4 linked regions of the Homo sapiens genome follow. The protein of the gene in region 1 interacts with the protein of each later gene in a pairwise test. Each region holds a gene or a part of one and is shown on either strand. Other genes may lie near its edges.

Region 1 (7,475 bases):
TTCACAGGGTGATAAACATGTCAGTACCACCAGGATGATATATCCTACTGGTTCAAAACTGCTTGAGCTATTTTAATCTATTCTTTTCCTCACAGCTTTCAGATCTCTACATGCTGGGTCTTTCTCTGGGCTAATTTTCTAGTTTCTTCCTGCTTTCACAATTGTTTAAAAATTCTTATAAAATACACATCAGTTCTCATATAGTTTTTGTTTTGTTTTTTAAAAAACAAAGTGTTGCTCTGTCACCCCGGCTAGAGTGCAATGACGCCATCAAAGCTCATTGCTGCTTAGAACTCCTGGGCTCAACAATCCTCTGCCTCAGCCTCTGAAGTAGCTAGGACTACAGGTGAGCCACCACGCCTGGCTATTTTTTTTTTTTATTAAGAGATGGGGTCTCACTGTGTTGCCCCGGCTGCAATCCTTCTACCTGGGGTGTCCTAAAGCCCTGGTACTACAGGTTGGAGCCACTTCGACTGGCCTTTGTTATTTTGATATATGTTGTTACCATTTAACTATTGATATACAATATAGATTTTCCTCTTTAGTTTCTAGTGAGCATTTTTTTTTTCTTTTTTGAGAAAGGTCTCACTTCGCCATCAAAGCTAGAATGCAGTGGCATGATTATGGGCTCAAGCCATCCTCCCACCTCTGCCCTCCAAGTAGCTGGGACTACAGGTGTCTGCCACCACGCTTGGCTAATTTTTTAATTTTTTTGTAGAGACGGGGTTTAGCCATGTTGCCCAGGCTGGTCTCAAACTCCTAAGCTCAAGCAATCCGCCCACCTTGGCCTCCCACAGTGCTGGGGTTACAGGTGTGAGCCACCGTGCCCAGTGAGCAATTTTATTTTTATATCATCTCTGGACCTCACATTAATCTATTTTTCTCAGTAAAAGTATACTGCAAACAGGCTCCAGCAATGACAGTCACATCCAGTTCCTCAAATTCTTTTTCTTATTAAGTATGTTGAGTAAACTGACCGTGGTTTTGTGTATAGACTGATACCAAAGGCCTGACCCTAAAGCCCTCAAAGACTTAGAGGGCTGTAGGGACATTAGACTTCAAACCCATCATATCCTCTTTCCTATCCTTGGAAAAGCAACGCACAAAGACTTTCTTAAACTCTTAATTTCTCAGCATTATTCCAGTGTGTCCACTATCCTTTGCGCTCATTGTCACACCCCTCATCTTTCAGAATCTTGAAGCTGTGAGGCGGAGGTTGCAGTGAGTCAAGATCGCGCCACTGCACTCCAGCCTCATCAACAAGAGCAAACTCCGTCTCAAAAACGAAAATCAGCAACGAGCCATTAGTAAACATTCATAATGAAGATTATGATGCTAAATGTCATTATTTGCATGCAAAGGTTTCCCCCTCATACTAAACCTCAGCATTTTGGGTTTCACTAGATTTAAAGCAGAAGTGAGGCTTCATTACAAGGCCACCTCTCTTTTCTGACTAGTGGGGTTTTAAATAGCCTGGTGGCTTTCCAGGTGGTAAGTCTCAGCTAATGGGCTCTGGAGAACCCAGCCTATCAGTTCATTTATGGAGTCCCTTGGCATCCTTGTACTGTGAAGAGCTGTAAGGCCTCAAAGAGTAAAAAAGGTGAGTTGAGAAGGTGTCACAGAGCACGAAGGTGGTCCCCACACAGGTCACAATTATGTAGCTGTGAACAGGCCACATGTTGCATCTTTCATAGCATCTGCCACAAAATAAGGGCTCAATATATTTTCCCTTCAATTTACTTTAAAAATCATTACCATTGCCTAAATGAAATATTACTGACATGGATTTTAAAAACTGCACATGTAACTAATGTCTAAAATTGGGTCACGTGAAACCTATAACCTTGAAACTGAGAATTTCCTTTTAGACTTCATGACAATATACCAAACACTTAATGCACCAGGGGCTGAGGGGAACAGAGAACCTAATTAATCACGGTGACCTGATAAATGAGGTAACACCCCTAAAGCAAGTGGCTCTCCTTTAACCTCAGTTCCATTTCCCTACCCCCCCACACCATGTCCCTTCAGATCATTTGATCTGAAGAGTTGAGGTGGGTACTTATTCAAAATGAATAATCAAACTTGCCTCCCAATTCCCAAAATCTGCAAGGTCCCTTAGACCTCTAGAAGTGCAATTTTGCTGACAGGAGAATGAAGGAAATTACTCTCATCCAAGGCGATTACCTCCACGAATTCTTAAAGGGTTATGTTACATAGTAGAATCCAGGTATTAATATAAAAACTGTAACTTCAAAATACTATAATGTTTCAATCAACAAAAGTGGGCAGAAAAAAAATTAAAAATTTTAAAACCCACCACTTCAGAAGCATTATGCTTTAGTACTCGGATAGTCTCAACATGGGAAGAAAACATCACTTTGTCAGTGAGTAACTTCTGATAAGTATGTGGAAATGTAAGCCACTCCGCTCGAAAAATGCACGCAGGGGGAATGACACGCGCGGTGCGGTTACCGTTGTGTCCCGATATCTGAGGCCGTTAAACGACGAGAAGAGCGGCAGTGTCTGAAGCACGCCTTCCTACCTCTCCTCCGCCCGGCCCCGCTTCCGGGACTCCAGTTCACCCGCAGCACCCTGACTGCAGGTGCCAAGTCACAACTGCAAAGAAACTTCCTTTTCTCGAGCGGGGGTGGGACTTGGCCGGGTCCCGAGGCCCCTGGCCGGCGGGCTCGGACGTTAGGAGCAGAACCAGCTCCAGGTCCCGGTCTGTCCGGGCGTCGCTGCCCTCTGAAGCTCAGGCCGGACGCCCCAGTCCCTGGCCGAACAAGGTGCCGCGGCCCACCCACCCCGGTACCCGCCGTCCGACCCCGTTGCCCTGCACCTGAGGATGTTGTCAGCATAGGTGAGCAGCAGCTTGGAGGCCTCCAAAAAGGTCTCCGGGGTGTTCTGGCAGAGCTCAGCCACGGCCGGGGACGCCGAGCCTGAGGAGCTGCCCAATGCCGCCGCCGCCATGCTTGAGCGCCAGCGGGCGCCGCCGCCGCCCCTCGCTCTCCGCGTCCCACACTGAGCAGGCGCCTCAGCGCGCAGCAGCTACCGCAGCCACCGGCAGGGGCGGGGTCCTCGGCCGGCAGGGGCGGGGTCCTCGGCCGGCAGGGGCGGGGTCCTCGGCCGGCAGGGGCGGGGTCCTCGGCCGGCAGGGGCGGGGTCTTCGGCCGGCAGGGGCGGGGTCGGGGGCCTGGGGCGGGGTCGGGGACCGGGGCCAGGAGCGGGGGAGCTCGGCTGGGAGCTACGGCTGCCCCTTCGCGGGGGGCAAGGGGCTGTTCGGAAGAAGGTGGGGGGCCTCGGCCGGCAGGGGCGAGGTGCTTCGACCCAGAGTTGGGGCCTGGTCGTACAGGTTGGGAAGGGGTTCCGCAGGGAGAGGCGGGGCCTGGGCTCCGGGGCTGAGGGGTGTGGGCCTGGAGGAGGGGGATGTCGAGTCCTTTAGGACGGAGGAGCTCGGCTGGAGGGGAGGCCGGCTTTGGTCTAGAGGTATCGGGCGAATGGTGCTGGCACGTGCCTCTCAGAAACCCGGATCCCTTTGCGCTCCGGGGCCAGCCTAATTGATCCAGCTATTAAGGTGGAGAAACCGCATGTACCTCCCTCCTTTCCCCACAAATAAAACCACCTTAGAGCCTTCTCTTCGCAGATTGTCAGGACGTTCTACATAGATGTGGATGAAAGACTACAGAAGGAAGGAGCAACAAACGTCAAAAACAAAACCATGGCTATAAACTCTGCTGGGTTTGTTATATGGATTCTTTTCAGAATTTGGCTAATGACTGAAAATCTAAGTTCCAGCTCAACTAGTATATGATTCCTCTGTAAGGAAGTGTATTTTTAAACCATAGGTTGCGACATAATAATGGGTTGTGGATTCGGTTTACCGCGTGGTGACCAGCGTAAAACACATGCATAATAATTACGCAATATTATAGAATGTCGGGGGCGGGAAGGGAATAAAAATTTGCATCCCACACAGTAAGGGTAAGTAATATTTTGTGACTTGTTTTTTAGGTAGATCATGTGATCAAGGTCTTTTATTCCTCTTAGAAGATGCATCCCTTACTACTTTAATCCAGTCTCTTCCCCACCATGTTCTTGAAAGTGTACTTTACCAGTGGCTTCCTTCTTTGCAGAAATTCCTTTTCAACCTCACGAAGTATTTTTCTTGACTTTATTTCTTAAGATAAGTGATTTGCCTGAATAACCTCTTTTAAATTTCTTGATGTTTCATCTGTTTACTTTTAAGAATTGAAATTTTCTTCCAGAATCTCCGAACAAGACCCTAAGCTATGACATCCAGTTCAATGACTATTCGTCTCCCAAATATACGTACGCTTTTAATAAATATGTAAATCTTTGGACCACCTTCCAAGTATGGTGTGTTCAACAGATAGTAGTATGTTACTACCGTCTGTAACTAAAATTTTCAGGGGCTTAACACAAGAGTAATTTCTTTCTGGCTCATATAACACTTTAATAATGCAGGTGTCATAATGTCAGTGGACCCAGTCTCCTTCCATACCTTAGAACAGGGGTCAAGAAACATTTTCTGTAAAGGGCCACATAGTGTTTTAGGCTTTGTGAGCCATAAGGTCTGTCTCAACTATTTAACTCTGCCTCTGCAGCTGTTGCTCCACAGACAATACTTGAAAATAAATGGGCATGGTTATGTTCTAGTGAAATTTTATTTACAAATCCAGGCAGCCTGCTTGGACAAAAAAAAAAAAAAAAAAAAAAAAGTCACACCTACTTTTAACCACATGAGCCCAGAAATGACACACAGCATTTTCTCTACCATATCATTACTAAGAATGAGGCCTCATCAAGATAAAAGGGGGTATTTCAGTAAGGCCAGATTTACAAAAAATAAAAAAAAAATTTAAAAACACATAAAAAGATAAAAGGGGAGAGTCTGGGAAATGTAGTCTCGTCCAACTACACAATGGATTGGGGGCTTGGGTCTGGAGATATAGCTATCACAAACTTTATTCCTCTTAATTTGGGTTTCTTTTTCCATTGATACATTTATTTATCCTTTACTAATTATATGAGAATAGTATATATTATACAGTACTTGTAACTTTTAAAAATGCAACAGAACTTTTTTTTTTTTTTCAAATAAAATTTTAGGGGCTGGACATGGTGGCTCACGCCTGTAATCCCAATACTTTGGGAGGCCGAGGTAGGTGGATCGCTTGAGCCCAGGAGTTCAAGACCAGCCTGGGCAACATGGCAAGACCCCATCTCTACAAAAAAAAAACAAAAACAAAAACATAGGAAGATTGTCTATATACAAAACACCAAAGTGGAAATGCTCTGGTATTGAAGCAGAGGTGTCAAGTGAAGGGCAGAAAGCTGTCAGCTAAGGCTTTCCCCTGACAGATAGAATGGTCATAGGGTACTTTTGTGGGGGAACAAAATGACTTTTGTTTTTCTCTTCATAATAGTTTGTTTCCTCAACTAAAACGCTATCTCACTGTAAGTTATCATTAGTTTTGTCTTCCCTATTTGATTAAAAGTCTCTTGTGCCATCTGTCTCAGACTGCTTTGCACACAGCAGGTACTGAATAGAGTTGTTGGTTAATCACTCAATGTAGTCACACAATAGTGAATCACTATACAAATTCCTGAAAGACTTCAACTCCTCCCCTTGCTAATGGTTTTTATGGAGGTTAACTTTTTAATATCACCAAACCAATCGTGGGGAAAATTTACAGAGTTCTTTCTTTTTTGTTTTATTAAAGAATAGTGTTAGCCAGGCGTGTTAGTGCACACCTGGAGTCCCAGCTACTTGGGAGGCTGAGAGGCAGGAGAATCGCTTGAACCCAGGAGGCAGAGGTTGCAGTGAGCTGAGGTTGCCCTACTGCACTCCAGCCTGGGTGACAGAGCGGGACTCTACCTCAAAAAAAAAAAAGAATAGCGCCATGATATGTCAACTCTAAAAATGATGTTTTTAATAAAGGTGAAATCCTGGGGAAAAAAAAAATCTTTATTTTGGAACAAAAATAAATAAATAAAAGAACAAGAATTTCAATGCTGATTTAGTACCCATTCTTTGGTTGTTTGAAACAACGATGGGTATAAAAGTTAGGGTAGCTTATTCAGCTTTTCTAAAGGAAATGGAAGAATTAGAATATCTCCAACTTGACTGAAGTGGGGGAAGCAGCCAGGAAAATGAGAGACCAAGTCCCTTTATATAATGGATTCCCTTAATAGCTTTATAAATGGCAATATTCAAAAGAGATTACAGTTACTCAAGAACTTTAACAGAAGTGTTGCTAAAGAGTTATTTGGAAGGACTTAAATTTCAGATGATTTTTTTAAAATGGTGATTTCCATGATTTTATGGACTGTACATTGTTATCACAATATTAATGCTATGGCATTGGTTTTCGCAAAAGTCATTTGGTGAGAAATGCACAAAAAGTGCATGTGTACTATCAAATGTAAGGATAAATGTTGATTTATTCATTCCATAATTCATTCATTCATCATGTATTTATGAAGTGACTACTAGTTGCTCAGCACTGTGAAGGAGACAAGTATGGTCCCTACTTTCATAGAAGTCATAAGTTTAGAGCAGTGGTTGGACAAGCAACAGCAGCATCAGCAGGAAACTTGTCAGAAAAACAAATTCTGAAGCTCCACATTTAAAGGTGGGACCCAGCAATCTGTGTGGTAACAAGCCCTTCAGGTGATTTTGATTAACAGTAAACTTTGAGAACTACTAGTTTAGAGGGAGGAAAATTTCACTGTGGGCTGCAGTTTCAGTGAGGGGGGACAACTTGAACAGAAGCCTTAAATTGAGAGGTTGAGAAGGTGAGAAAGGAGAGGACTTGCTACCTGTGAGAGACTCCCCACCCTCCTTAAATCATGTACAATATCCTAGTAACGTTTCCTTCTCAACATCTCCTGGATCTCTCCTTGCCATTGCCTTCAGAGCCTCGTGTTTCATCCATTCTTAACTTTCTTCCCTGTGTCCATTTCCACATCCTTCCAACCCACCCTGCTCATTTGTGCAATAGTGATCTTTCTAAAGCACCCATCTGATCATGTTGTTCTCCTGGTAAAAAGTTTTCTATGGCTCCCTCTATCCACATTCTAAAGTCAAATGGTGTCAGGAACCAGGCTGGTAAGTTAAATATTTTAAGTGGCTTTGTTCAAGACAAAGAGGAGTAAGAGAGACTCCAGTGAAGGGAATGAGAGAGTTTACCATGTCCTTTCTAGAGGAGTTTAGAATCAATAAAAGAATGTTGCACTCCAAATTATACCATGAAGGCTAGCATATGGTCTCTGAACTACGGGATTAAATCCAAAGTCCTCAGTATGATACCCCAGGCTTTTGTGATCTGGGCCCTGCCTTACTCTCATGCGTTTACTGTTGCTTTGTCCCACACTTCAAATTTGACATGGGCCACATATTTAGCTGTTTGTGGAAGATACCATGACACTTCATTTCTCCAGGCCTTTGT
Region 2 (2,680 bases), on another chromosome or scaffold:
TTCATCACAAATAAATTTACATCACTCATAGGTGCTCAAAAGTCACAATCCATTATTACAGCATCAACTCTAAATCCAAAATCTTATCTGAGTCTCACCAACTCAAAAGTCTCAAATCTCACATTGAAGCCATCTAAATTAAGTTTGGGAGAGGATCTGTGTGTGATTTCTGGGACATAATTCCAACTGTGCACTTGTGAACCTAGAAAACAAGTTATCTGTTCCCAAGTATGATGGCATGACAGGCAGACAATAATAGTTACACACGTTCCTGTTCAAAAAGCAGAAACAGATGGAAAAAGGAGCCATCAGCACCAATCAATTTACAAAACCAGCGAGGCACCCTTCTTTAAGTTTCAAGGCCTGGGAGTAATCTTCAGCTCACTGCTGTTCTCTGGGCTTGTTGACTGTCTCAGAGTCATCTTTACTTTTTCACAAAAGGTAGCACACGTTTGCAGCTGAGTATCAACTTATCAGTTTGTTCTTCTTTTATATTCTCTAAAGCTTTCTGTTAAAAATGGTGGTGCTTCTGCTGCTATAACGTTGTCAAGAAACTTGTGGGTCTTTTACATATGTCACAGGGATGCACTCATTTAGATAGGAGGCTCCTCACGTATCTTTCCTGGAAAATCCTGTCTCTGTTTTTGGCTTTTTCTGAAATAGCTGAGAGGATCTATGATTCACACCCTTAATATCTTCAAAGAGTCTTGTGTGTGACCTGATATTCAGACCTTTTGATGTTTCTGAAGTATTAGCAAAAGGTTATACAGCCATATCTTCATCACTTTCTCTAGAGTAAAGGCTGTCCTGACGGTGAATCTTAGTTTTAGTGGCTTTTGCCATTTGAATAGGCCGCGAATTTCCCAAATCATCAAGTCCTGGTTTCTTTATATTTAACAGGTCTTCCCTCAATCTACCTCTTTCCACATTTTACTATAATCAGCAAGAAGACAGCAGGCTGTACCTTCCACAGCTTGCTTGGAAATATCCTCAGCTAAATATTGAAGTCATCACTTAAAAGTTCTGCTTTACACATAACGGCAGGACACAACTCAGCTTAGCTTTTCGCCACTATGTAACAAGGACTCCTTTCCTCCACTTCTCCAGTAACATATTCCTCATTTTTTACCAACAGTCTATTCATGATGATTTAGATATTCTATGGCAATCGAGGTATTCTCTATTATGCTCCTTTCTTCAAGGCCGCCCTAGCATTAACATTCCATATTTCTACTAACAGTCTGTTTAAGGCAGTTTAGCTTCTTTTCTGGCATGCTCCTCAGAATTCTTCCAGCCTCCACCTACTGCCCAATTCCAGAGCCACTTTTCTACTTTTAGGTATTTGTTACAGCAGCACCTCAAGTACCTAGAAAACTCTTTTATGCCTGCTTCTCTGCCAGATGACTTGAATATGGTACTAGATTTGGAATTCACCTTTCTCCAGGGTCACTGTTTATTTCAAAGAGGTGAATTTACCTGTGCTAGGGTTTTCACACTGGGAGTGCTACCAGAACTACCACAGGATGAAAGTGGTGAGCCCACCACTGCAGAGAAGTTTTCTCAGTGCCGTAATATAGAGGAATTCTCAAAATAAGCCCTACTCCTTTTCACTTACTGAAAACAACTTGGATAATGTGTAACAGCCAGCCCCATTTCAAAAAGATTACCAGGGGTAAAACAACTTTTTCATGGGTCAAAATCATCTTCCGAAGAAAATGATTTCTTAAAAGAATTGAACATTGTAAATCAAAGGGCATTGTCCTGTTTTGGATTAACAAAACAGGAAAAATAACCAATCCTTGTAAAATTATTTGAAATTTTCTTGTTTTTATCAGTTGAGTGCCTATAGATGCACATACAAAAACAACTGCCATTTTTGTATATAATAGTCTTCCAAGATAGAGATTTACATTAGGAGAGAATTAAACATCCAGGAGGGATGAACAGTATTTCATGTGTGCTATGTAGTGTTTTGCTTCATTGAGAGTCATTTTCATGAATTATTTTTACTACTGCAGTCATCTTAAATTTATAATCATCTCAAAAAAGATGTCACAATGAACAGACAACCATCTGTGAGGTCAGTCATTTTGCATGATGTATGTAATCAAAAAGTTTGAAATGTCTGCTTACTAATAAAGAATGTTTTCACTGAAACTTATTGGAAAGGTTTTTCAAATTTTCTTTGATTTGTAGTTTTGAGTCCTGAATAGATTGTTTTAACATGAATAACATTTCCTGTGGTTTAATTTCCCTTGGCGCACCTTTGTCAGGGACAGGGAAGGAACTGGTTGTAGCATATTATCTGAATATCCTGTTACTGTTTCTGTTTTTATTCTACCCAAATAAAAAGGTTCAGGTGCTTCTTTTTTGCCACAATGGATTTCTGAAAACCTTGTCACAACTGTGAAAGGAAAGCAAATCTTGGGACCCCAGAATCACTAAGCTAAAGGGAAAAGTCAAGCTGGAAACTGCTTAGTGCAAACCTGCCTCCCATTCATTCTATTCAGTTATCTCTGCTCACTGAGATAAAGGCCTGTCTGATTGCCTCCTTTGGAAGGGCTCATCAGAAACTCAAAAGAATGCAACCATTTGTCTCTTACCTACCTGTGCCCTGGAAGTCCTCTCCCACACTTCGAGTTGTCCTACCTTTCCATATTGATCCAATGTCCATCTTACA
Region 3 (6,846 bases), on another chromosome or scaffold:
CTGGGGGAGTTGCAGGTGGAGAGGCGCCCCCATCCATCCCGGCACCGCCCCTAGGGAAGCCCCAAGTTTATACCGCAAGGGACCAACTCGCCGCGACTCGGCGTCCACCCTCAATGCTGACACAGTTCAGGCCCGGCAAACGAAGCAGGGCGGGGCTGGGCATTAGGGGCGCCGCCTGCCGAAGATGCGGTACCACGTGCGCGCTGTACGGACCCCGAATCCTGTGAGTCCAGCTCCGGCCACAGGCTTTCGAAGAACTGGGCCCTCGGCTTTAGGGCGGGGCCTCTTCTTTGCCTCCTGCCTGGATGTCGACTCCCACCCACGCTCTGCGCTAGCTCCGGGGCCGAGCCCCAGTGCCAGAGTCGTTCCCTGAGGCTTCTCCCAGGGCTCGCACAGAGGGAGGCCCAGTGGCGGACGGCGATGGCCCAGCCTTTGCTGGATTCCGGGCTAGGGGTCTGGGGAAGAGGGGCATCGGGCCGGAAATGAGCCCCAGTTCGGGCTCCACGAGCCCTGGAGCCCCCAACGATGTTTCCTGGCTGAGTTAAAGAGCCCGACCTTGGCCCCTCGCCTGGCGATGTCGGCCTCCCCCTCCCTTGCCCGCAGCGTCTTAGCTGGAGGGCAGCTCGCAGCGTGCCTAGGCCAACCCCTTCTGCGTCTCTTTTCTTTTCCTGTCACTCTCTGTTCTCGGCTTCTGCTTTCTCCTTCTCACAGAATGCCAGAGCGCCCAGGGGCCTGGAGGAGCTTCCGCACCAGCCCCTTTTCTGGGCCTCCAATTTGCCTTCCCCACAGTCTAGTCTCCCCCCGTTCCATATTTCTTTCTGTTTAGACTCTGCTCGTATTTCCTCGCCGATTGAGCCAGCATGTGTCTCTGCCTCTAAATCTTCTCCCTCGTGTAACATTAAACAAACCAAGGTGTGTTGAGCTGGAGAAGTCCTGGCAACGTGGACAGAAGGAATGGCTTATTCTGTCCTGGGGACATTTCCGGTCACTACAGTTCGGTTTCCCCTTGAGGCGGCGCCAGCTCCGGTTCCGCCCCGCAGGCCGCTGCTACGGAGGCGCCCGCTCGCTGTCTCGCTCTCTGGCGGTGTCTGCGTGTGTTCGGGTGTGGGCACATGTATCTGTGCTTGCAAACCAGGGCGGGCTCTCCAAACCGAAAGCTGCGCGGAGTTGGGTTTCTGGGATTCTAGGGCTGCGGGCAAGGGAGATGGGGGATTTTCCCGGGATCCCGACTCCGATCTGAGCCTAGACTCCCCGCGTTCTGGCCCCTTGTCCCGTATCTCTAGGGCCGCAGTGTCAATTCCGTGTCCTCCGAAGTGGTTCGTCACCTGCTCCGCCGAGGGGAGCCGCCCCTTGGGCCAACGCTGCGGGAGTCCGGACGGTCCGAAGCATGCTGGCCAGGCGCAAGGGGAGACCGACTCACAGGGGAGAGGGTGGGCAAGGGGACGGCGGCTGGGCCTCGGTACCCCGCGAGGGGGGCTCTGCGATTCTGACCCAGCAGCGGCGCCTCCGGGCCCGCGAGGTTTTGACGACCAGCGGGCGCCCCCTCGGGAACCACATTTGTTTCCCGCTGGTCTCGAGCGTCCAGAGCGCGAAGCGGCGGAGCACGGCGAACCTACGATTCGTGATGCTTGGCCTAATCCTCTGCCCTTCATGGGTGCGGGCAGGAACGGAGTAGCGGCTGATGTCCCCTCCCTAATCCCAAAGCCCCACAAAAGCCAAAATACACACGCAAACTCTCACCAGCGCATCTCACAAACACAAAAACTAAAGACAACACATGAAAATATAACCCGATCCCCCACCAAAACGTACAGTTCAAAAAAATAAAATTCAAATCGAAGGAAACAAAACACACACAACACGAAATTCCCTAAGGCAACACACACACAGACGACACCCACTCACACCAAATCAAAACACATCTAAACACCGCGGAGAAGGAAAAGCCTTACAAACGACACACAAAAAGACAGCCTACAAGGACAAAGTACAAAATTACACAAAATCAAAACTCACCCCAAAGACCAGGACTTACAGAGCAAAACCCGCTAAAATCAATCCCACGAAAAAACAACACGCAAAACACCCGAAACAAAAGAATATCCCATGGAAAAATGAAAACTCACAGAAAACAAACAAAAACAAAACAAGCCCTCTAAATGGAAACAACAACAACAACAAAACACCAACACCCCCCGCCCCCAGCCCGGGGTGAAATGTCAATTCCGGGAGGGCTTTTGATCTCCAGGCGCGGACAGGCCGCTCCTCCCAGGCGCTGCCTCCCGGCGCGGGCGAGGCGGGAGGGCGGGAAGCCTGGGCTGGGGCTGGGCTGCGGAGGGAAAGAGTCGAGCACTCGGAGATGGCCAAAAATCAAATCTCGGGGTAGGGACACGGGCCCGCAGGCTGCAGGGAGGAGGCGGCGCTGGGGAACTGCGCAGACCACTTGGTGGGGGGGCCGCCCGGGAATCCACAGCCACATTTCCGATTGTGGCGAAATCTGCTCAGTGGATATGTGATGTCCAGTTGCCGCCGGGGGCCCCCCTTTCCTCGAGCTCTAGGCTCTTCCCCCTAGGTTGCGACCCAGCCTCGTGACCACCCCCTCCAAAAAACAAACAACACTCTTGCTGAGGACGATTCACTCTCCAAAACTGCCATTGTCCGGCGGGCCAGGAGTCCTCCTACGGAGCGCTCCCCCGCCCTGGAGAACCTTTCCCCTGCGACCACCCCGCTGCAGGGCCCCACAGGCTTTCAGTGGCTAGGCCCAGCAGCTGAACTAACTCAAGGCTGGGGAGGGGAACAGGGAGGGGAGGCTTGAGTCTGGCCCGAAGAGAGAGGGCTGGACATGCCACACCTCTGCTCGGTCTCTGTGGATCTGATTTCCTCTCTGGAATCAAGTCCTGGGGCTCTGGGACTCCACAACGTCTCAGGGCTCGAGGGCAATGCGATTCCACTTATGGGCCGGGGTAAGGTGTCTGGAACTCCCGCCAATCTCCAGAAACTACTGAGATGTTCTGCTCTGCCCGGGTGCTCCAAAGCGGAAGCCCGGATTTCATCTCCAGTATTTCACAGCTTAACCTCCATGCTCTGGGCCAGAATGGAACTTGATGTGGGGAGGGGTTCTGGGACTAGAAGACTGGATGGGACCTGGGGGCTTTAGGGATCTGGCGCTGCCCTAGGGTCAGGGGCCCAGCAATAGTCAGGACCCCAACAAATTGGGGTGGGGGTTGGATGGCTGGGAACCCTGGGGTCGGGCGCCGCCCTAGGGGTGAATCGGAGTAAACCGGAACGTCGCCTCGGTGCCTGGCAACACTGCCAGCCTTTGCAACCCCTTTCAAAAGCACCTGCTTGGCCGAGCAGTTAATTTCTTCAAAAACAAAAACCCGGCCTGCGCTCGTCTAAGCAGCGGGGTTTGCACATGGAGATGTCACAGGCCCCGCGCACAGCGCAGAGGGCCGCGACCCCCAAGCGCATGTCTTAATAGAAGGTGCGGCTGGAAGACCCGGGCTCCCGGGCTCCGCTTCGGTCTGCCCCTTCCCGTAGGTGCGCTGGCTAGCGCCCGGCGCAGGCTGAAGCCTTCCTTCCCTCCCCCCAACCCCTATAAAAGTCTGGGGCGGCGCGGCAGCAGCACTGCTGCTCTCCCGGCTTCCCGCTCTACTCCGGCCGGGCCGGGTCCGCCACGTCTGGCGCGCTGAGCAGGCCCGGCCGCGCAGCGCCTACCCTTTCCTCGCTCCGGGCCGGCAGTGTGGGGCGGCGCGCTGGGGGCGCGGCGTGTCTGGGGACATCTTGTGATGTTGGCGAGAACAGGACATGATCTCACATGGCGAGAAGCTCTTTAGTTCCTTAATCATTTCACGGTGCCTTCGGACGCTTTTTTTCCACCTAAAACGTTTAGTTTCAGCTCAGTGATCAGCTACCCCAGCTCGGCGGGGGAGCGGAAGGCTTGAATTATTCCGACCTGTGAGCGGCCCCTGGCACCAAAAAAAAAAAAAAAAAAAAAAAAAAAAGAAAAAAAAAGGCACAAAAAAGTGGAAACTTTTCCCTGTCCATTCCATCAAGTCCTGAAAAATCAAAATGGATTTAGAGAAAAATTATCCGACTCCTCGGACCAGCAGGACAGGTAGGACCGCGATACGGGCTCCAGATGTGCAAACTCCGGGACACGGCCAGGCCTTGGTCCCCACGCAGGGTGACCCTGGAGGAGGAGGGGGCGCGCCGCATTTTCGTAGAGACTGTCTAACTGCGGCGTGTTTGTTATGTTTTTTCACCTATCTGTTCACACACTTCTGCATCAGTCCAAATATCTGTGAGTTTGTCTGTGTTTTTCTCTGTTTCTGAATGTTCACGCTGGCGTCCTTCCGGGGGTCTGCAAGTTAGGGCCTGTGTGTTTATATAAGGGACTCAGTGTGTTCATTACAGTATATGTATTTTTAAAAGATGTAAAAATATATGAGTTTGTGTCCAAAAGTTGTTTGCCTGTGTGTGTGTGTGTGTGTGTGTGTGTGTATCTTTATACTCGTGGGGTATTCGTGTGTGTTTATAAGTTAGTACTTGTGTATATTCTTTTGGGTATCCAAAATGTGTGTCTACTATGAGTGTTATTTATGTAATTCGGAAATATCTGAGTGTACATCCACTATTTAAAGGGTCTGCATTCACCTGTTATATCCCAAGTGATTTTTGGATGTGAGAAAGAAGTGGCTACACTGACCTTTCCATTTTTGGATGTCAACGGCTGTCCGATGCATACACGCCAATGTTCACATTGTGTCTCTAGGCAAACTCCTAGACGTGGGTCTGGGGCCTATGGAGATCCGTGGTGTTTAGCATGTGCATTGTAAGGCCCAGTGTCCATTCTATTGGGAGATAGGACCAGGAATGAAGGTGTGAATTCAGGGCATGCAGCCTCTTGGTGTGCAGTGAGCACTGTTCAGGCTACCATTTGTACAAACAGGTCTCCTGTGGCAGGCACAACCTTGCAGATGACAGCGGACACCTGTAGGGTTAGTTGTGACATTTCTAGGGACCCCCAGCCTACATTCACTTTCACCTAGACAAGCCTCTGACACTGGCGTGTGTATTTGTGTGTACACACAGACACACACACACTGTGTCCTCAGGTTTTATCCTGTGGGTGCCGCACCAGTGGAGGAGAGCACAGTGGGTGGATGCATGTGCATAGTCTGGGCATTCAGCTCTAGGGCCTGTATGCGCACAGGCCTCCCTGGCTTAGGTCCCCATGTGCCTCCCACAGGCCTGAGAAGTAGGTAGCAGGATGTGTTTATGTCTGAGAGGAGATAGCAGGGACAGTAGGCCTCCATCTGCCCTGAGGCATGAATCAGGTATGGGGGGCCTCTTTCACTCACTAGGCCACTGTGTAACTCCCACACAAACACTCTCTTGGCCCTGGCAAGAAGCCCCCTTCCCCCATCTCTGTGCCCTCTGAGAACCCCCATCTCTCCTCCAGCCTCAAATACAAGCCTAAGAGCAAAAAGGATAAACTTAGACCCCAAGCCCAGGACAACTTCTGGGGCATAACTGTGTTTCCAAAATTGTGGCTGGAGAGAAGTGAGGGCAGAGATCTGAGGCAGAAGAGTGCTCCCAGGATGAGGGCTCAGGAAAAGTTACCTGGAAACTCCTCTTCTCCATCCTCAATTCTCAGAAGGCCCTTCTCCCTGGCAGTGGGCTTCTCAGCAGATGGACTTTCAGAGAGACCTGAGCCTGGAAGTGGGTGTTGTGTATGTGTGGGGAATGAGGCGGGGATGTGTGAGTGTCATGGAGAGGGTCTGCGCAGTCCTCGGGCTGGCTCTCCCGACAAGCTGTGTAGAAGAATGTAATTCATGGCGGTCGATGGGCTCTTTGATTAGTTCAATTGCCTGAATAATCATTTAATCAATAAAGCATTTTATTCCTCTGCATAGCTGGACTGGGTGGGGCTTGGGGTGGGGTGAGATACGGGAGCCCTAGGCTGGCCAAGCCTTAAAATCTAGAGAGCCACGCCCCCTCCTCACTGATGGGTTGGGGAAGAGCTGCCTGCCTGGAAAAGGGCGACAGTTCAAGTGAGACTGCACTTCCATCTGTCCACTCCAGCCTGGGTCAGGGCTGGAGAAGAGAGGGAAGCTGAGAAGCTGTCCAAGCTGGTGCTCAAAGGGTTGTCCAGGTCTGGTTCCTATGAGAGCTTCTTCCTTCTCCCAACTTCTGGGTATTTCATGGGCCAATAGACTTCCTTTTTCTTCCTTCAGAACCATATTCCATTTCTTACCCCAACCTCAGTTTCCCTATCTGCCCAATGGGGAGGGAGTGTGTCCTTCTGGCTCTAAGCCCAAAATAAGGTCAGGTCAACACTAAGCAGGGAGCCACTTAAGGACCTTCTCCTCTAATGTCTTCCTTGCTGTAGGGAAAGGAAACTCAGAGGTTCGGAGAGGGGAAGGGACTTGTTCGAGATCATAAAGCATGAGTAAGGGAGGGAATAGGAATGGAAGGTGACCTCTCTGCCCTTAGACCTCCTGTTCCTGCTGGGAGAAGAGACAGATTCCCCCCTCTCTCCATGGACCCCCTTGGAGAAAAACTACTACTTGGACAAGTAGTAGTCTCTCCTTGCCATGGGAACCCTTGAGTCCTTAGATCCGGGCAGACCTGGATGGATTGAGTACTTTCCCACTGGGCATTGACATCCAGTCTCACAGTTCTGGAATGAGCCTGGAATGGAGTGATAGATATTAATAACCCCCATCCATGAAGCTTCATCTCACAGAGCCTAAGAAGTCACATCTCAGGATTTGTTCTCTGTATTAAACAAACGGGGAAGCAGAGGCTTTAGAAGGGGCTGCCTGTCTCAAGTCTTTGGGA
Region 4 (7,039 bases), on another chromosome or scaffold:
ATTTCTGAATGCTAATGGGGTACTTAACTATGAGTAATTCTATTTTAAATCTCAAGGTGATGATGATTAATAGTATCTCAGGGCACTAAATAAACATGTATTAAATATGAGCGTATGTTTAAAGGGGGAGTTTTTAATGCAGTCTTTAAGGCACAACTGCTTCTCACTTGAATTCTTTAACTGAGATTAAGGAGTCCTTGGCATTTTAAGCAAAGTCATTTCTTAGGTAAAGTTCCCCCAGAGACCACTTGAACTTTTGCAAGTCTTAAAACAATGGGTGGTTCCATTTGATGGTTCAGAATAGAAAGGAGAGTGTTGATCCTCTACACTGGTATGAAAAAAACTGTATAAGGAGATGGAGGATGCTGGATATCATAGTGCCCGAGAATCACCTGGGGCCCTTGTCAAACACAGATTCTAACTCAGGACACCTGGGAGAGGACCCGAGCTGCATTTCTCACAGCTACCAGATGCTGCACGCTGGCAAGGTTTTGGGATGCACTGAATCCAGTTCAGCATGTTTACTGAGCATATACCACATAGAGAGCCCAGATGATAAAAAAATGAGAAGATGGGTTGTACCTGCCCTTGAGGAGCTAACAAGGTGAGGTGGCAGGGAGAGAGAGAGGGATTGTAAACTGAAAATGAGGTTCTGGGATGCCATTCTCTGGGGTGGTGGCCAGAAAGGGGCCCAGGAAAGGAGAGTTGCTGGTAGGGCTTCCACATTGCTGACCTTGACCTGTAGTCATATTTGAATGGAGAGCCTTGTGACTTGGCAAGAAATAAAATGCAGATTTTGAAGTCAGACAGACCTGGGGTAGCCTCCCAGCTCAGCTATGGCAACTTTTAACCTGAGACTCAGAGTCCTTGTCAGAAAAACAGTGCAAATGATGCTTACCTTGCCAAGTTTGTAGAATTACCAGTAAAGGACGCGTGTTAGGCCTAACAAAAGTGATTGCTTTTATTACTGTTGATAGGAGAGAGGAGGCTGGAAAGCAAGGAGGACGAAGAGGTTACTAAAATATGTTCCATGTAGTTCACCAATTAGAGATTCAATTTGGTTTACCAGCAAACCCAAGGCCGGCCGTGGAGAACCGGGCCAGGGCTGGAGGGCAGGCAGCTGTGGAAGCTAATCAGAGGCAAAATGGAAAATTATTGGGAGCATGCTTATCTCCACCCTCTCCTGCAGTCCCTGGCTTCTGGTTTGCTTTGTTGATAGCCCTTCCTAGGATATTTTCATCTGAAGCTTTTCTTGGTACTTAAGCTGTAGGTTCTGTTGATCAAGACTGCTAGTGGCAATCAAGCGCTCTTTAAAAATGTAGTGGAGAGGACAAACACCTCTCCTCTTTGAGGGGCATTGGTCTATTCTGTGGTGGGTCACTTTCCAGGATCAAAGCCATCAATCTGTCTTTCCACCATAGTACGAGTTACTTGAAACTAGTGCCGAGCGTGTTGGAATTCACCTGGGGTGCCTTTTATGCTTTGCACTCTAAGATATTGCTTCCTCCTGCCATCTAGGAGAGATGGATATTGCAAGGCAATGGTGTCCTTCACCCTGATATTAGGAGGGGTCACCTGGGTGGCCCTGAAAACACTTCAACCAACATCACTCTGATTTTTTAAAATATATTTTGGGATTCCATTTATTATTTGCAAAGGCGATTTCTCTGCTACCATTTGCCTTCCACGCTCCCTGAAAGTAAATCTTGAAAACCAAGTTCTAAGAGAATGGCAATGGCAGTTTGATGTTTAGGGGGAAGGAAAAGCAGAGGAACCCCCTGGAGCCAAGGCAGGCCTGGGTGAGGGTGGAGACGAGAGAGGGAAAGGAAGGCATCGTCAGGCATGGGAGTACCAGGATGGAAATGGGAGCAGTGGTGGGGGCTGAAGCTGAGAGGTTGGACCCTAGGACTCAATTTGTGGACTTTGTTGCTTTGCTGAAGGCCGTGGCAGATAATGTTCCCAGACCACTGAAAATCATCCAGGCTTCCAGAAAACACAGGCCCATCTAAAGACAGACAGGTGACGAGGTGACAGAACCTAGTGGCGTGATTCTTCTAGCCTCTTCTGAGCCAAAAATGACATGCACAATTTTATGAATGATATTTGTGCCCCTTGGTGATAAAATATTAAGAGCTCGAGGTCATCTGAAAATTATTGGTTTTTTGTTTATAAAAGTACATAGTTTTTGGAAAAGATAGAAAAGAAGGAAAAAACCCCACAATTTCAAGATATATTTTCCGTTCAGTGTTTTTTCTATGCATTGAAATATTTTTATATTAGTTTATCTTAAAAAGCACATGGATATAATCTTGTAAAAATTTTCAAATAGCACAGAACCATTTCTAGTAGAAAGAAAAAAAATTCCCTTCATCCTTGTGGCCTACCCATAATCATCGCCCTATCTTTTATTTGCCTAGCAGAAACTGGATTTTGTACAGTAGACTGCCAACCCACACCTGCCTCTGGAGGTTTATCAGATTGGCCACTCAACCCTGGTGAGGGTGGGGCTGCTGCCCTTGCCAGTGACTGGCTCAGGGTGAGCATGCGGACCCTGTTCTAGCCAATAAAATGTGAGGGTGGGCCACTGGGAGGCTTCTGGGAAAGTTTCCCTGCTCTCAAAAGAGACAAGGAAGGAAACAGTCCTTTCCTTCCACTAGATACTGTGATATGTGGCCATAATGCCTGCAAACTGGGCAGCCATCAGCCACCAGAGGGGCTGGGCCAGGTCTCAGCTGACCTGCGGAAGAATGCAAAGGTGAAGAAGGGCAGGGGGCGGGGAGGTCTCCGTGGTGCCCTTGACTTTCTGAATTACACAAAGAAGAGTCTGTTTTTGAACATGTGTGAGATCATGAAACCATTACCAGATGAAGCAAACTGAGCTAGTTTTTCTGTTGTAGCCAAAAGCATCCCATAACTCTCCACCTTTCTCAGGAGGTAATGACTGATAACCATGGGGCATGTTCTGCTAGTCATTTTTGGCGCATTTACATATACACACACATATGTACACTTTTAAAAACTAAGGCCGGGTGCACTGACTCACGCCTGTAATCCCAGCACTTTGGGAGGCCGAGGCGGGCGGATCACGAGGTCAGGAGTTCGAGACAATCCTGGCCAACATGGTGAAACCCTGTCTCTACTAAAAATATAAAAATTAGCTGGGCATGGTGGCACATGTCTGTAATCCTGGCTACTCAGGAGGCTGAGGCAGGAGAATCACTTGAACCAGCGAGTCGGAGGTTGAAGTGAGCCAAGATCCTGCCACTGCACTCCAGCCTGGCAACAGAGCAAGACTTTGTCTCAAAAAAATAAAATTAAACTAAAAAATAAAAACAAAAACTGAACTCATTTTATGTATATTATTTAGCAACTTAATATGGCATGGATTTTTAATGACATACCTTTTTCTTTATTTTTAAAGGCTACAGAGTATTATTCAGAAGTACAAATAGGACGTTATTTAACCCATCCCTATTAATAAATAATCTATTGAGTTGACTGTTACAGTTTTTGTATTAACTTCCTTATCTGTATATCTTTATGTACATTTCAAGATTTTCTAGGTCAGGGATTATTAGGCCTGGGTAAAGGCACACCTGTTTGAAATATTGATAGATGCTGCCAAATTGGGGGCTAAAAAAAGCTATGCCTGTTAACCTCCCCATCTACAGTGTGTAAGGCCGCCTTGTCTCCATATCTTAACTAACACAAGATATTTTCCAGCTTTTAAATCTTTTTTGTGCATTTTCACATGTTTGAGGTAGTACCATTTATAGTTTTCTATTCTGATTGTTTTGACGTGAACATAAGCATTTTTCCATGACATAAACAATTTAAATTAAATTTTATTGGCTACATAATAGTTATACTTGTTTTGGGAGTGTATCGATGGTACATGAAGACGCAAAGGGAAATATTTGAAATAGAGGTTGTCTATGAAAATTAAGTGGCTATGATCGACCTTGCAGTAAACCTGAAAGATTTTCTGGAAATGGTGTTGGGAGACACACCCCTCCAGTGATATGTTTCCAAGAAAACCCTGAGGAGATGACCTTCCAGGCCTTTCTCAATCCAGTCAGATGGTAGGCTGCCCCAAGCATTTCTAAGAAGCTTTGTTGCTTTTAGAATCCATCAGATTTACAGTCAGACAGGTTCTAAATTCAGTTCTCTGAATGTACAGTAGTTACGTAAACACTTCGTACATTGCATGAGACAGCTGAAAAGTAAATTTGCTGTATTCTTTTAATTTTTTCGACTTTTATTTTAGATTCAGGGGATACATGTGCAGGTTTGTTACCTGGGTATATTGCATGATACTGAGGTGTGGGGTATGAATGATCCTATCACCCAGGTACTGATGTAGTACCCAATAGTTAGGTTTTCAGTCCTTATCCCCTGGCTCCCTGCTCCCTCCAGTAGTCTTCAGTACCTGTTGTTGCCATCTTTATGTCCACAAGTACCCAATGTTTAGCTACCACTTATAAGTGAGAACATGCAGTATTTGGTTTTCTATTTCTGCATTAATTCACTTAGGATAATGGCCTCCAGCTGCATCCACGTTGCTGTAAAGGACATGGCTTCATTCTTTTTATGGCTGCATAGTATTCCATAGTATATATGTAACACATTTTCTTTATCCAGTTCACTGTTGATGGGCATCTAGGTTGATTCCATGTCCAGTAGACATGGACATGGAATCACGATTGCTATTGTGAATAGTGCTGTGATGAACATGTGAATGCATATATCTTTTTGGTAAAATGATTTGTTTTCTTTTGGATAGATACTACTATCAGTAGTGGGATGGCTGGGTCAAATTAGTAGCTCTGTTTTAAGTTCTTTGAGAAAGCTCCAAACTGCATTCCACAGTGGCTGAACTAATTTACATTCCAGTCAACAGTGCATTAGTGTTCTCTTGTCTCCACAGTCTCTCCAGCATGTGTTTTTTGACTTTTTAGTAATAGCCATTCTGGCTGGTGTGAGATGGTACCTTATTGAGGTTTTGATTTGCATTTATCTGATGATTAGTGATATGGAGCATTTTTTTCATGTTTGTATGTCTTCTTTTGAGAAGTGTCTGTTCATGTATTTTGCCTATTTTTAAATATGGTTTTTGTTTTTTTTGCTTGTTCAGTTGTTTAAGTTCCTTATAGATTCTGGATATTAGACCTTTGTTGAATGAATAGTTTGTAAATATGTTCTCCCATTTATGTAGGTTGTCTGTTTACTCTGTTGATAGGTTCTTTTTCTGTGCAGAAGCTCTTTAGTTTAATTAGGTCCCACTTGTTAATTTTTGTTTTTGTTGCAATGGCTTTTGAGGACTTTCTTTCCCAAGGCCAGTGTCCAGACTGATGTTTCCTAGGCTTTTCTCTAGGATTCTTATGATTGAAGTCTTACATTTAAATCCTTAATTCATCTTCAGTTAATTTTTGTATATGGTGAAAGGTAGGGGTCCAGTTTCATTCTTCTGCATATGGCTAGCTAAATATCCTAGCCCCATTTACTGAAGAGAGAGTCCTTTCCCCATTGCTTATTTTTGTCAACTTTGTTGATGCTCAGATGGCTGCAGGTGTGTGGCTTTATTTCTGAGTCCTCTCTTCTATTCCATTGGTATATGTGCCTGTTTTTGTACCAGTACCATGCTGTTTTGGTTACTGTAGCCTTATAGTATAGTTAGAAGTTGGGTAATATGATGTCTCCAGCTTCGTTCTTTCTGCTTAGGATTCCTTTGGCTATTCAAGCTCTTTTTTGGTTCCCTATGAATTTTAGAAGAGTTTTTTCTAGTTCTGTGAAAAATGACATTGGTTGTTTGATAGGAATAGCACTGAATCTGTAGATTGCTTTGGGCAGTATGAGCATTTTAATAATATTGATTCTTCCAATCCATGAGCATGGAATGTTTCTCCATTTGTTTCTGTCATCTATGTTTTCTTTTAGAAGTGTTTTATAGTTCTCATTGTAGAGATCTTTCACCTCTTTGGTTAGCTGTATTCCTATGTATTTTATATTTTAATGGCTGCTGCAAATGGAACTGTGTGTGTTTTGTTGTTTTTTTTTTTTTTTTGAGACAGAGTCTCATTCTGTCGCCCAGGCTGGATTGCAGTGGCGCAATCTCAGCTCACTACAACCTCAGCCTCCTGAGTAGTTGGGACTACAGGCACGCACCACCATGCCTGGCTAATTTTTGTATTTTTAGTAGAGATGAGGTTTTGCCATGTTGGCCAGGCTGGTCTCGAACTCCTGACCTCAAGTGATCCGCCCGCCTGATCCCAGCACTTTGGAACTGTGTTCTTGATTTGGCTCTCAGTTTGGACGTTATTGGTGTGAAATAATGTAGAAATGCTACTAATTTTTGCACATTGATTTTGTATCCTGAAACTTTATCGAAGTCATTTGTCAGTTCTAGGGGCCTTTTGGTGGAGTTTTTCGGGGTTTTCTAGCCATAGAATCATATCAGCAGCAAAGAGAGAGAGTCTGACTTCTTCGTTTCCTATTTGGATGCCTTTACTTTCTTTCTGTTGCCTGATTACTCTGACTAGCACTTCCAGTACTATGTTGAATAGAAGTGGTGAGAGTGGGCATCCTCATCTTGTTCCAGTTATCCAGGGGAATGCTCTTAAAACATTTTCAATTCTGCTAGAGAAGAGAGGAAGGCAAATGAAATGGATAAAACTCATAAGAAATGTTAATCACCCTTCAGGCAAGGGCACATTTGAAAAGCACCACTCTTGGGCATGGACCTCTGATCATCCTTCTACTTCCTCACTCCTAAGTGATAGTGCATAGCCCAGGAACACCCACCACCTGCTGTCCTCCAATAGGAAAGGAAAAGGCAAGATGACAAAAGAAAAAACCTTCTCAGAGTCAACAGACCACACAAGAAAAAGATACCTTGAAAGCAAAAACAACCTATCAGTAGACTTCCTGGGGACATCATGAGGCAGCCAGCATAGCTCTTTGGTCTTTGTTGCATGCATTGAGGCATCCCAAATATCCTAACGCGAATAGAATTGTTAGTCATCAGACTACGTGCAATAAC

The links.
Region 2: the proteins of NGLY1 (region 1) and UBXN2B interact in binary tests that used the Homo sapiens proteins (3 or more experiments, as listed by UniProt).
Region 3: the proteins of NGLY1 (region 1) and PAX5 interact in binary tests that used the Homo sapiens proteins (3 or more experiments, as listed by UniProt).
Region 4: the proteins of NGLY1 (region 1) and NPAS2 interact in binary tests that used the Homo sapiens proteins (3 or more experiments, as listed by UniProt).

Annotation. Positions count from the first base shown.
Region 1 is NC_000003.12:25,780,418-25,787,892, forward strand, and holds the start of NGLY1 (peptide-N(4)-(N-acetyl-beta-glucosaminyl)asparagine amidase), read right to left. Parts: upstream 3,027-7,475; 5' UTR 2,974-3,026; coding exon 2,843-2,973; intron 2,456-2,842; exon of another isoform or gene 2,321-2,455; intron 1-2,320. UniProt on the Homo sapiens protein: Specifically deglycosylates the denatured form of N-linked glycoproteins in the cytoplasm and assists their proteasome-mediated degradation. Cleaves the beta-aspartyl-glucosamine (GlcNAc) of the glycan and the amide side chain of Asn, converting Asn to Asp.
Region 2 is NC_000008.11:58,449,341-58,452,020, forward strand, and holds the end of UBXN2B (UBX domain-containing protein 2B), read left to right. Parts: 3' UTR 1-2,161; downstream 2,162-2,680. UniProt on the Homo sapiens protein: Adapter protein required for Golgi and endoplasmic reticulum biogenesis. Involved in Golgi and endoplasmic reticulum maintenance during interphase and in their reassembly at the end of mitosis.
Region 3 is NC_000009.12:37,031,257-37,038,102, reverse strand, and holds the start of PAX5 (paired box protein Pax-5), read left to right. Parts: upstream 1-3,834; 5' UTR 3,835-4,071; coding exon 4,072-4,117; intron 4,118-6,769; exon of another isoform or gene 6,770-6,846. UniProt on the Homo sapiens protein: Transcription factor that plays an essential role in commitment of lymphoid progenitors to the B-lymphocyte lineage. Fulfills a dual role by repressing B-lineage inappropriate genes and simultaneously activating B-lineage-specific genes.
Region 4 is NC_000002.12:100,823,139-100,830,177, forward strand, and holds part of NPAS2 (neuronal PAS domain-containing protein 2), read left to right. Parts: intron 1-7,039. UniProt on the Homo sapiens protein: Transcriptional activator which forms a core component of the circadian clock.